2 linked regions of the Homo sapiens genome follow. The gene in region 2 interacts genetically with the main gene of each other region. Each region holds a gene or a part of one and is shown on either strand. Other genes may lie near its edges.

Region 1 (5,601 bases), on a different chromosome or scaffold from region 2:
CCTACCCTGGGCATTTCTGGCCACACTCTTCTGAGTGGGCTTGTCATGGCTAGTCACCTTTGCCTTGTGCCAGAGTGAAAGCTTTTCACCCTTACTTGTTGCTCCAGAAAGTGTTGAAAACTTGGCATGCTTCTTCAGATACATTTCAAACCTGAATTATTTCTATTTGAAGAGGTATGAATGGTTGGACAGGGCAGGGATTGCAGACTGTGTGGATTTCCCCACCTTCCCTTCATGTCACTGGTCTCTTCTTGCCTCTGGAGGAAGCACCAGACACTATAGCCAGGCAGTTCAAGCTTCTCCACCGAAGTTTGTTTCAACCATGCTGGCTTTCTAGAAGTTACCCAATTGTGCTTTCCATTTGCCTGTCTGGATCTTAGCTGTTGTCATTCTGTTCATCTGGAGGGCCCTCAGTCCCATCTTTGCCATTTTAAGATCTCACTATTCAAAACCAAATACACATGCAGCATCCTTCATCCTTCCCTGATCTGGGCTGAGGTAACCTCCTGTTGCTTCTCACTTGCACCTGCTTTGGACCACATGCTGATTTATTTAGTAGATTGTAGGCCTTTGGTATTCACCAGAGATATTTGAGAGTGTACAAATTAGCAAATGCCACTCTAACAAATGATTTCCCATGTGTTGTTTAAAATGTAAATGAAAACTGGGATTCTTTTAGACCCTTAAGAAAGTTGTGTTGGAATATGACCATTTTGTATTCACCCAGGCTCGTTTGCTAGCTAAGTGATTGGCTTTTGCATACTAGCCTTCAGAGCGGCTAATTCACATCCAGACCTCAGAAACAGATGCCTCCATTGTGGTACTCTCAGGGCATTTGTAAATCAGAGGGAAGTTAGCATCTGCTTTGTCTACCCATCTCTTTTTCACTAGAAGGCAAAACCTGAGAGCTATTTAATATTCCCACACCTCACATCCTCTATGAGGTGAGTGCTCAGTAAACTTCTGCCAAGTGAATTTACCAGCATTTCCCAATATTAATCTTCCTCACTTTGGTCCAAAAGGAGGAGGAAATTTTAGGAAAATCATTATCTATAGAAATAAACAGACTTTGTGGCATTAAGTGACTTGAATGTAAAATGATTTGGTAAGTAGCAGCTGGTTGCATGCATATTTAAAATGAGCAGCTAACTTCTCTCTTCAAGATGTGTGCACCTCCAACTAAGTGCTGAATGATGAGGCTGGATGTTTAAGCAGGACCACGTTGCAAATTGTCTTATGGGCTATGCTAGAGTTCTCACTTATACTTAAAGCTTTGGGGAACCGCTGAAAGTTTTTTTTTTTTTTTTTTTTTGAGACGGAGTCTCGCTCTGTCGCCCAGGCCGGACTGCGGACTGCAGTGGCGCAATCTCGGCTCACTGCAAGCTCCGCTTCCCGGGTTCACGCCATTCTCCTGCCTCAGCCTCCCGAGTAGCTGGGACTACAGGCGCCCACCACCGCGCCCGGCTAATTTTTTGTATTTTTAGTAGAGACGGGGTTTCACCTTGTTAGCCAGGATGGTCTCGATCTCCTGACCTCATGATCCACCTGCCTCGGCCTCCCAAAGTGCTGGGATTACAGGCGTGAGCCACCACGCCTGGCCCCGCTGAAAGTTTTTAAGTGAAATGATGGCAAAGATCAGTGCCAGTAGAGCAGAGAAAGTTTTGGAGCATCCAGGAGAGAGAGAGAAGGGCAGAGAGATGGGTAAGGCTATTGGGCACGGGTAGTATGGAAGCATAAGCTGAGTGACGTCAGTGTGTAGGAGAATTGAGAGGTAATGAGTAATTCAAGTGATAGTGAATAATTGAGTAATTCAGAATTATTAGTGAATAATTCTCAAGTCAAAGAATTGAGAGATAATGAATAAAGGTATATGTGTATATACCCATGTACATATAAATAAATAATTTAAGGAACTCAGAGTACAGGAACTAAAGGGAAAAACAATGAAATGTCTTCCAGATTCTAGCCTCATCTACTGAATAAGTGAAGATAGCTTTTTTTTTTTGCTTTTTTTTTTTTTAAAAGACAGGGTCTTGCACTGTCGCCCAAGCCGAAGTGCAGTGGTGCAATCATAATTCACTGCAGCCTTATACTCCCAGGCAGGAGCGATCCTCCCACCTCAGCCTCCTGAGTAGTAGAGACTACAGGTGCACACCACCACACCTGGCTAATTTTTAAATTTTTTGTAGAGATAGAGTTTCGCCATGTTGCCCAAGCTGGTCTCGAACTCCTGGGCTCAAGCGATTCTCCCATCTTGGCCTCCCAAAGTTCTAGGATTAAGGGTGTGAGCCACTGTGCCTGGCCGATACCATTCTAATTAAGAAGGAAAACAAGGGAGGAGGAACAGGTTTAGGGTTGACAAGTTCAGTTGGGGACCTGTCGAGTTTGAGGTGTGTGTGGTACATCCTGGATAAGAGTTCATTAGCATGTAGCCATGAGTCAGAATGACCTTAAGGAGATTGTACAGCATGAGATGAGGGCCAAAAAGACAAAATCATAGGGAATGTCAAAATCAAGGTAGAAGATGAAGAGAGCAAAAAAGAGACCAAGAGAGGTCAGAGAGATGGGAGGAAAAGATAGACTCCCTGCTTCCTTCTGGAAAGTGGCAAGTGCTTAGAGAGAGATTGTGTAGTCTTGGTGATATGGTTTGGCTGTGTCCCCACCCAAATCTCATCTTGAATTGTAGCTCCCATAATTCCCACATGTCGTCGGAGGGACTTGGTGGGAGGTAATTGAATCATGGGGACAGGTCTTTCACATGCTGTTCTTGTGATCATAAGTCTCATGAGATCTGATGGATTTATAAAGGAGAGTTTCCTTGCACACGCCCTCTTTACCTGTCACCATGTAAGATATAACTTTGCTCCTCCTTCACCTTCCGCCATGATTGTGAAGCCTCCCCAGCCATGTAGAACTGTGAGTCAATTAAACCTCTTTTATAAATTACCCAATTTCAGGTATATCTTTATTGGCAGCGTGAGAATAGATTAATACACTTGGACAGGTTACTTGAGCTTCTCTGAACCTTTGTTTCCTCATCTGCAAAAAGGGAGTAATGATAGTACCTACCCATGGGGTGTCGTGAGGATTAAATTAATAAATATGTGTAAAGTACTTAAAACAGTCCTGGCACATAGTAAATGCTATATACATGTTTCATATTATTATTCTTTTTATTATCAAGAAATAAGGAACATCCATGGGAATTAGTATCCAACCGGTCATTAGTGACCTATGCTAGGGGCATTTCAGTGGAGTGGTGGGGGTAGAAGCCAGACTACAGTTGGTTAGAGAATGAATATGATACAAGAAAAGCAAACAGATAATTCAACTTATTAAAAGATTGCCTGTGAAGAAAAGGAAAGAGCAACATCAGTATCTGGCAAGGTGTGTGGTAGTGGTGATGGTGAGGGGTGTTGTGTGTCTTTGGGTCATGGGGAAAACTTAAGCATGGTTAAAATTGCTGAGAGGAGTGAGTAGAAGGGGAAGGGTCAAAGAGAAGCAGGAAGAATAGTTGATGGCTCAAGGTCCCATGGAAGGTAGGATGATTCAGATCCCAGGTGGAGGGATTAACTTAAGTGAAGAAGGACCCATCTTACACAAGCATGAAAATGAAGGAGATGAAGATAGGTAGTGATGCACATGAGTGTGTAAATGGGGACAGATATTTGAGGGATTTCCTGTCTGCTGGCCTGTTTTCTCTGGGAAACAGGGTAAATGGTTTGCTGAGCGCCAGTAGACAAGTGGGGCTTTAGGAGAGCAGTGAAGGTTTGATTTAATTGCTGTGAAGAATGGGTGAGAGCCAACAGAGACTTGTGGAAGATGGTTGCAGGGGGTGCTATGGGTCCAGCTGACATATATTGGCAATGGATGACACAATCAAATGACCTCTTCCAGTAGTACTGTAGCTGACAGGTGAGCACAGAGCACGGGGCTGTTGGGGTTTTGCTTTGTGGGGTGACCATTAGTTTTGTGGCGAAGGAGTAGCAGAAGGATAGAATCTGATACATCAGGTCCGGAGGTTTTGATGAAGCTGCCAAATGGGTCTCTGGGGAGAAGGAAGTAAAAGTACTATAAGGGAGAAAGTTGTAGTTGGATAAGAGAATAATCAAGTTTAAGATTTAAGAGGCAGAAAGTTTTTTCTGATAATGCCAAGGTCCACAGACTGAACAGGACTGCAGGCATGTGGCTAAAGGGGAATAGAGGCAAAGGCATTGGTGTCTAGGAGCTGCAGGACTAGGTGGACAGTGAGTGGTAGAAGTGGAGGGAACCTAGATGGTGCCAGGAGGAAGACTGTGTGAGAAGTGCTGTTTCTTTTTCTTTTTCTTTCTTTCTTTCTTTTTTTTTTTTGAGACGGAGTTTCACTCTTGTTGCCCCTGTTGGAGTGCAGTGGTGCAATCTCGGCTCACTGCAACCTCCACCTCCCAGGTTCAAGCGATTCTCCTGCCTCAGCCTCCAGAGTAGCTGAGATTACAGGCATGCACCACCACACCCAGCTAATTTTTGTATTTTTTTTAGTAGAGATGGGGTTTCACCACGTTGGTCAGGCTGGTCTCAAACTCCTGACCTCAGGTAATCTACCCGCCTCAGCCTCCCAAAGTGTTGGGATTACAGGTGTGAGCCACCACTCCCGCCCCAGGAGTGCCATTTCTGAGGGAATATGTTACATTGACCAGGGAGTGATCAGTGAGGGGCCGAGAGAGATGTGGGTTGGTGGCCCAGGCTCAGCAGCCTACATCTCTTCATGGGGTCTTTAGGCTAACATAGGATGATGGAGTATCTGTGTATTTCGCCATAGACAGATTTTAGTAGTTGCAACAGAGACTGTATGGCTTACAAAATCTAAAATATTTACCTGTAAAGGTAAAGAAATGAAACAAAACCGTTAGATTATTATAAAACAGAGTGACAGCTTAAATTTGTCAGTGTATAAGAATTTTGTGTATACTTGAAAAACACTGGCCTGGCAACTTAGTAGAAGATAAATTTGAGTTGTAGTGTTTCTGTAGTTGAGAATGAGTGAATGGAAACCTGTAGAAGCAAAGCAGTTAGGAGAAAATCATCTAGAGAAATGTTAGCCTTGAGAGTGAGTTCCACAACCACTTAGCTGTAGTGGTTGAAGGAGGAAAGAATCCTACCTCCAAATTACAACTTTACAAGAAACAGAACTACTAACCTTGAGAAACCATTATTTATGCCATTTATCAGCCCAAACTGAAAATTTAGTGCTCAAAGCTGGCACTATTGTATAACACAAGTTGCAGCATAAATTGTTAAAACCCTGTTGAAGGGCCGGGCATGGTGGCTCATGCCTGTAATCCCAGCACTTTGGGAGGCCGAGGTGGGAGGATCATGAGGTCAGGAGATCAAGATTATCCTGGCCAACATGGTGAAACACTGTCTCTACTAAAAATACAGAAATTAGCTGGGAATGGTGGCACATGCCTGTAATCCCAGCTACTCGGGAGGCTGAGGCAGGAGAATCGCTTGAACCCAGGAATCAGAGGTTACAGTGAGGTGAGATCGCGCCACTGTACTCCAGCCTGGTGACAGAGCGAGACTCCGTCTCAAAACAAAACAAACAAAAAAACCTTGTTGAAA
Region 2 (5,601 bases):
CCCCCATTAGACACGATGATTCTCTAGGGCAGCTGCTGAGATTTATTCATTTTTCTAACTCCAGTGCCTAGTGCAATGCCCAACACATGGCAAGCGGGCAGTAAATGTCCTGTCAATGAATCAAAGAGTTGGAAAACCAAAATTGCAGGAGATGGAGAAATGGGACTCTTAGTGATATGAAGACACGTCTTCCGTTTCTTGTTTGACAGCAAAAGTAAATAAACTGAGTCAAAAATTGTTGCAGATGATGTGGTTTTGACATGTGTTGACAATGACTGAAAATGTGTTTGTTGATAATCCATTTCAAACTGTTTCCATGGAAAGCCACCAGCCACTCAATGAACACCTCTTCAGTAAAGGTGCCGTGCGCAGTATTGTGCTGGGGGCCAAGTGGCAGCCAACAGAAGCTCTGAGTCAGGCTGCTTCTCCCCAGCCATGTGAGCTTCGTAGTTTATCCAGGCCCTTCTAGTCCACCCAGAATGTGGTCTGTGAGGAGGGGCATTGGTCACTGAGGAGCTTGTTGGAAATGCCAACTCTCAGGCCCCAGCCTAGACTTACAGACCCAGGATCTGCATTTTACCAACAGCCTCAAGTGATTTGACTGCATGTTCAATTTTGAGTAGTATGCATGGAAACCTTCCTGAGATTCTTTCCCTCACATATAAAATAAGAGTAACTATTACAATTCACTCACTGAGGGTTAAATGAGAGCATGTATGTGAAACTGCCTGGCACTATAGTTTGCTTTCGTTTCTAGAATGTGCGGAAAACAGCACATACATACAAGTATGCTGTGAAGATGAAAATGTGGTAAGAGGTCAAAACAGTTTTTGTGTACAGTGAAGAGTCTTTTATTTTTGAATATGATAATGTATAGAAAGTATGACAAATTCCTATCTCAAGAAAGAAACCTAGAGCTCAGAGGGGTAAATAAAAGGAATATACCAAACCAATGCTATGTGGCATCTCAAGTGCCCAGTACTGACCAGAAGTGCAGCAAGAAGAGATGAAAATGGGCTGAAGCGGGACGGAAAGGATCTGACTTACTAGGGGTGCTGGTGGTGAGGACACTCCTCACTGGCTCAAGCAAAGGCAAGAAAGGAAGGCTCAGGACCACCTCTGGGAAGCAGTAAGACCAGTAAGGCTGCAGTGAAAGGTGTAAGCTGGCAGGGGCCGTGCCTGAAAGAGGAAGCTTTATCACCTCATCACCTCTCCAATGCTCTAGCTAAAACAGAAATGATTCTGGGCTGTTAAATGCTTTACCACACTGCCTTGCCTTTGGTCTTGGTGGATGGGAGAAGGCAGATAAGGCTCACAGGTGTCAAGGACAAGCCTGTGTGGCAGTCCACTGCGGCAAGGCCAGACTGGTGAGGCCACACAGACACCTTCTGCAGCCCTTCCTGTTCTTCTTGGAAACCAATGATCCCCAAAAACAGTTATTTGGTGAGACAAAATCTTAAAGGAAATTAGGAAGAAAGCATTATTGTACCAAAAATAGTCTTAGGGGGTTAAAAATGGCTTGAAGTGTAAGCAGGGACTTACCTTCCTAATGGGGGAGAGTTACTAACTTTTTCGCTGGTAGGTAACTTCTCTTTTGCTAATTTTTGGCGATTTCTAGGAGAAACTGTGTCTGGGCTGCCAAGTTTGGATGTTGCACGTGCAGATGGCTTGCTATGTTGCTTTCTGAAACAGATTATAGAAACACTGGGCAATGGTAGCACTGAATACTCCAGTCCCTGGAACTCTGTAGGAAGTATGAGGCTCCTTGTGGGCAAGTCAGAACAATAGGAACTAAAATCAGAAAAATGGTTGGTTTTCCTGACCACTGCTGATAAGTCGATCTTAATGTCATCTACAACTACCTCTGCTTGTGTGACACTATCTTTGTTCTTACTGTGCATGATATTTTATTGTGATTTAGAAAAAAGATGTATCTGCGAAAAATAGAAAATATACTGGCCGACAAAATAAAGATTACAAAAGAGCTCATCAGGGTAGAATAAAGGGCCAAGATTAACGAAAGTACAATTCACAAGGCTAAGTGTTAAGGCCCAAGTAGTCAACTGCACAAGAATCAGATAAGGAATTCTGATTCCAGTAAAAACTCTGAAAAAGGAACTTGTTTAGCTGGTGTATTTTTCAATTTGAGGCTCAGTAATGAGGATGCACACTGAAGAACAATATCCAGAAAATAAGGTAGAACAGTCCTCTTCTGGATTCATTAGACCACACTTGGTATACAGAGTTTGCTTCTATCTATCTGTCTGTCTGTCTGTCTGTCTGTCTATCTATCTATCTATCTATCTATCTATCTTTCTTTCTTTCTTTCTTTCTTTTGAGAAAGAGCCTCTATCTATCTATCTTTCTTTCTTTCTTTCTTTTGAGAAAGAGCCTCGCTCTGTCACCCAGGCTGGAGTGCAGTGGTACAATCTCTTCTCACTGCAACCTCCACTTCCCGGGTTCAAGCAATTCTCCTGCCTCAGCTGCCCAAGTAGCTAGGATTACAGGAGTCTGCCACAATGCTCGGCTACTTTTTGTACTTTTAGTAGAGATGAGGTTTCACCATATTGGCAAGGCTGGTCTTGAACACCCGGCCTTAAGTGAGCCACCAGCCTTGGACTCCCAAAGTGCTGGGATTACAGGCGTGAGCCACTGTGCGTGGCCTCTTTTATATTTTATTAATTTAATTTAATTTTTTCTTTTAAGAGGGTCTTGCTATGTTGCTTAGGCTGGTCTCGAACTCCCAGCCTCAAGCAATCTTCCTGCCTCAGCCTCCTGAGTAGCTGGGATTACAGGCATGAGCCACTGCGCCCAGCTGCACATTTGCTTCTAAAAGAGGATAAAGGTAACTGATGAGCACAAACAGGGATGATGAAGGGGCTCAATAAGCAAGCAGAGAAGACCTGGAAGCTGCCCTCAAATATGTAAGGCAAAATTAGACAGAAGGTTCTGAAAGTCGAACTAGAATCAAGAGTAGAAGCCACAGGGAGGCCGGCTTCTACTGAACACAAGTCAGAGAATGCTAAGGAGGATGTGGCTTTCCCTGCCACTGAGGTCCATGCAAAAGCAGGAAGACCCTTTCAGAGGAGCTGCAGGTGCAGTGACTCAGGCACTGACTGGCTATTGGTACTACATGACCACTGAGAGCCCACCCAACTCAGACAATTTGTAAAATTATGAAGACACCAGAGCCCTGGGACTGATCAACCAATGCCAAGGAATCTAAACTAGAGAGAAAACAACTCATTTGTAAATCAAAAGTTTATATTATAAAGTGCATGAAGGAAGAGCTTTGATAATCCAGGTGATTACAGAACCATATAAATCAAATAAGATTTATTTTTAAAGAATTTATAAAAGGCAAATCTGAGAGCAATTTCTAGACACTCACTCGAAGATGGCTAGAAGGCCTATGGAACTTTCTCTGAGTTGAGCCCTACTTTCCACAACTGTTTTAAAGGGAAGCAGTAATTCTGGTGGGATGGATGCTATACCCAAATGCATGGGTGTTGGGCTCCAGCACCCTCACCCTCTCCTAGCAGCAGCAATTTGGATTCTGTGACTTCTTTTCTATTTATGTGAGCTGCTCCACCTAAAAAAACAAATATGAGACCACCTTATAACTTTAGCCGTGTGAGCTTCTAGAGTCCTTTGGCTCTAAAATCTGATTCTTTGAGAAATCAAACCATGGCACAAATGGCTAATACTGTGTTAAGTCTGGAGGAATTAGAAACAGATTGATTTTAAGTTTTTGTTTTTTTTTGTTTTTTTTTTTTGAGACGGGGAGTCTCACTCTGTCACCCAGGCTGGAGTGCAATGGCGTGATCTCGGCTCACTGCAACCTCCACCTCCCGAGTTCAAGCGATTCTCCTGCCTCAGCTTCCCAAGTAGCTGGGATTACTGGCACGTGCCACCACACCCAGCTAATTTTTTATATTTTTAGTAGAGATGGGGTTTCACCATATTGGCCAGGCTGGTCTCGAACTCCTGACCTCGTGATCCGCCGGCCTCAGCCTCCCAAAGTGCTGGGATTACAGGTGTGAGCCACTGTGCCCAGCCCCGATTTTAGTTCTTTATGTAAACACAAGATACTATTATATTATGCTGTTAGTGTTATTTTTGAAATAAATCTTCCTGAACTTTTTGATCAATCTTGAATAATGAAATTAAACAAGATGATACCAAGATTAATAGCTTGTAAATCACATTAATTAAAAATTAAAAAAATATATATTTTTTCAGAGACAGAGTCTCACTGTCACCCAGGCTAGAGTGCAGTGGTGCGATCACAGCTCACTGCAGCCTCAAGCTCCTGGGCTCAAGCGATCCTCCCATCTCAGCCTCCCAAGTAGCCGGGACTACAGGTGCATGCCACCATGCCCAGCTAATTTTCTAATTTTTTTGTAGAGATGGGGTCTCCCTGTGTTGCCCAGGCTGGTCTCATAAACTCCTGGGCTCAAGTGATCCTCCCATCTTGGTCTCCCAAAGTGTTGGGATTACAAGCATGAGCTACCGTGCTCAGCCTGGAAAATATTCATGTTTGGGAAAGTGATTAACGGTTAGGATGAGACAATACAGTTATGTACCATTTCTCAAATGTGCCATGGGGAAAGGAACACTGGATGATGTGAACAGGTATAATGATATAGGCCAACAACAGAAAAGTGGTATCAGCAAATAATGCTTGTTTAAACAAAGTTCAACAGGCTTCTTTCCTTTAGGAGTTTGCCAAACCCTTTTTTTTTTTTTTTTTTTTTTTTTTGAGATGGAGTCTTGCTCTAACACCAGGCTGGAGTGCAGTGGAGCCATCTCAGCTCACTGCAACCTCCGCCTCCCACGGTTAAGCAATTCCCCTGCCTCAGCCTCCCGAGTAGCTGGGATTACAGGCACTCACCACCATGCCTGGCTGATTTTTGTATTTTAGTAGAGACGGGGTTTCACCATGTTGACCAGGATGGTCTCGATCTCCGGACCTCGTGATTCGCCTGCCTTGGCCTCCCAAAGTGCTGGGATTACAGGCGTGAGTCACCGCGCCCAGCCCTGGAGTTTGCCAAACCCTTAATATTTTAATGAACATGTAACTGAGGAAGGAGAGAGAATTCAATGACATTCCCAAACTCATCTGACCGTGGTACTCTTTTTCTCAGAGGTTTCTGGCTACAATAGGGTTTGAGAGAACACATTTTGGGAAATATATGAAATTACCTCAAAAATGGTCAAATTTGGGCACTTTCCTATGATCAACCTATTGCATAGCACTGGTGAGATGCATGTGATGACGGTGCGTGGGCCTGGTTCCTCCTGCTTTCTGGGTTGAATTAAGTATGCTGAGAGCAGGGATGATGTTTTATGTATGTCCATATTCATGAATGGTGCTCAATACGACATCTGAAGGATGGCAGATGCTCAAAAAATATATTTGTAAGGAATTGAATGGGTTCCACCAAATAGGCATTTAAAACCTGGTAAAGACTTTGAGGCAATCCCCCAAAATGGTTTAGGACAGAAAATGTGTTCTCCAAGAACTATGTGCCCACTGCTAACAATAAAAATGAAAGGGAAGAACTTCCACTGCAGCATGAATGATTCAGTTCAAAGAGA

Evidence for each region. Genes that interact genetically often act in the same process or in processes that back each other up.
Region 1: changes in BOD1L1 (region 2) and PDCD7 together harm fitness more than expected from each alone (negative genetic interaction), as found in Homo sapiens cells (one large-scale study listed by BioGRID).

What each region holds. Positions count from the first base shown.
Region 1 is NC_000015.10:65,123,175-65,128,775, reverse strand, and holds part of PDCD7 (programmed cell death protein 7), read left to right. Parts: intron 1-5,601. UniProt on the Homo sapiens protein: Promotes apoptosis when overexpressed.
Region 2 is NC_000004.12:13,571,160-13,576,760, forward strand, and holds part of BOD1L1 (biorientation of chromosomes in cell division protein 1-like 1), read right to left. Parts: intron 1,684-5,601; coding exon of another isoform or gene 1,543-1,683; intron 1-1,542. UniProt on the Homo sapiens protein: Component of the fork protection machinery required to protect stalled/damaged replication forks from uncontrolled DNA2-dependent resection.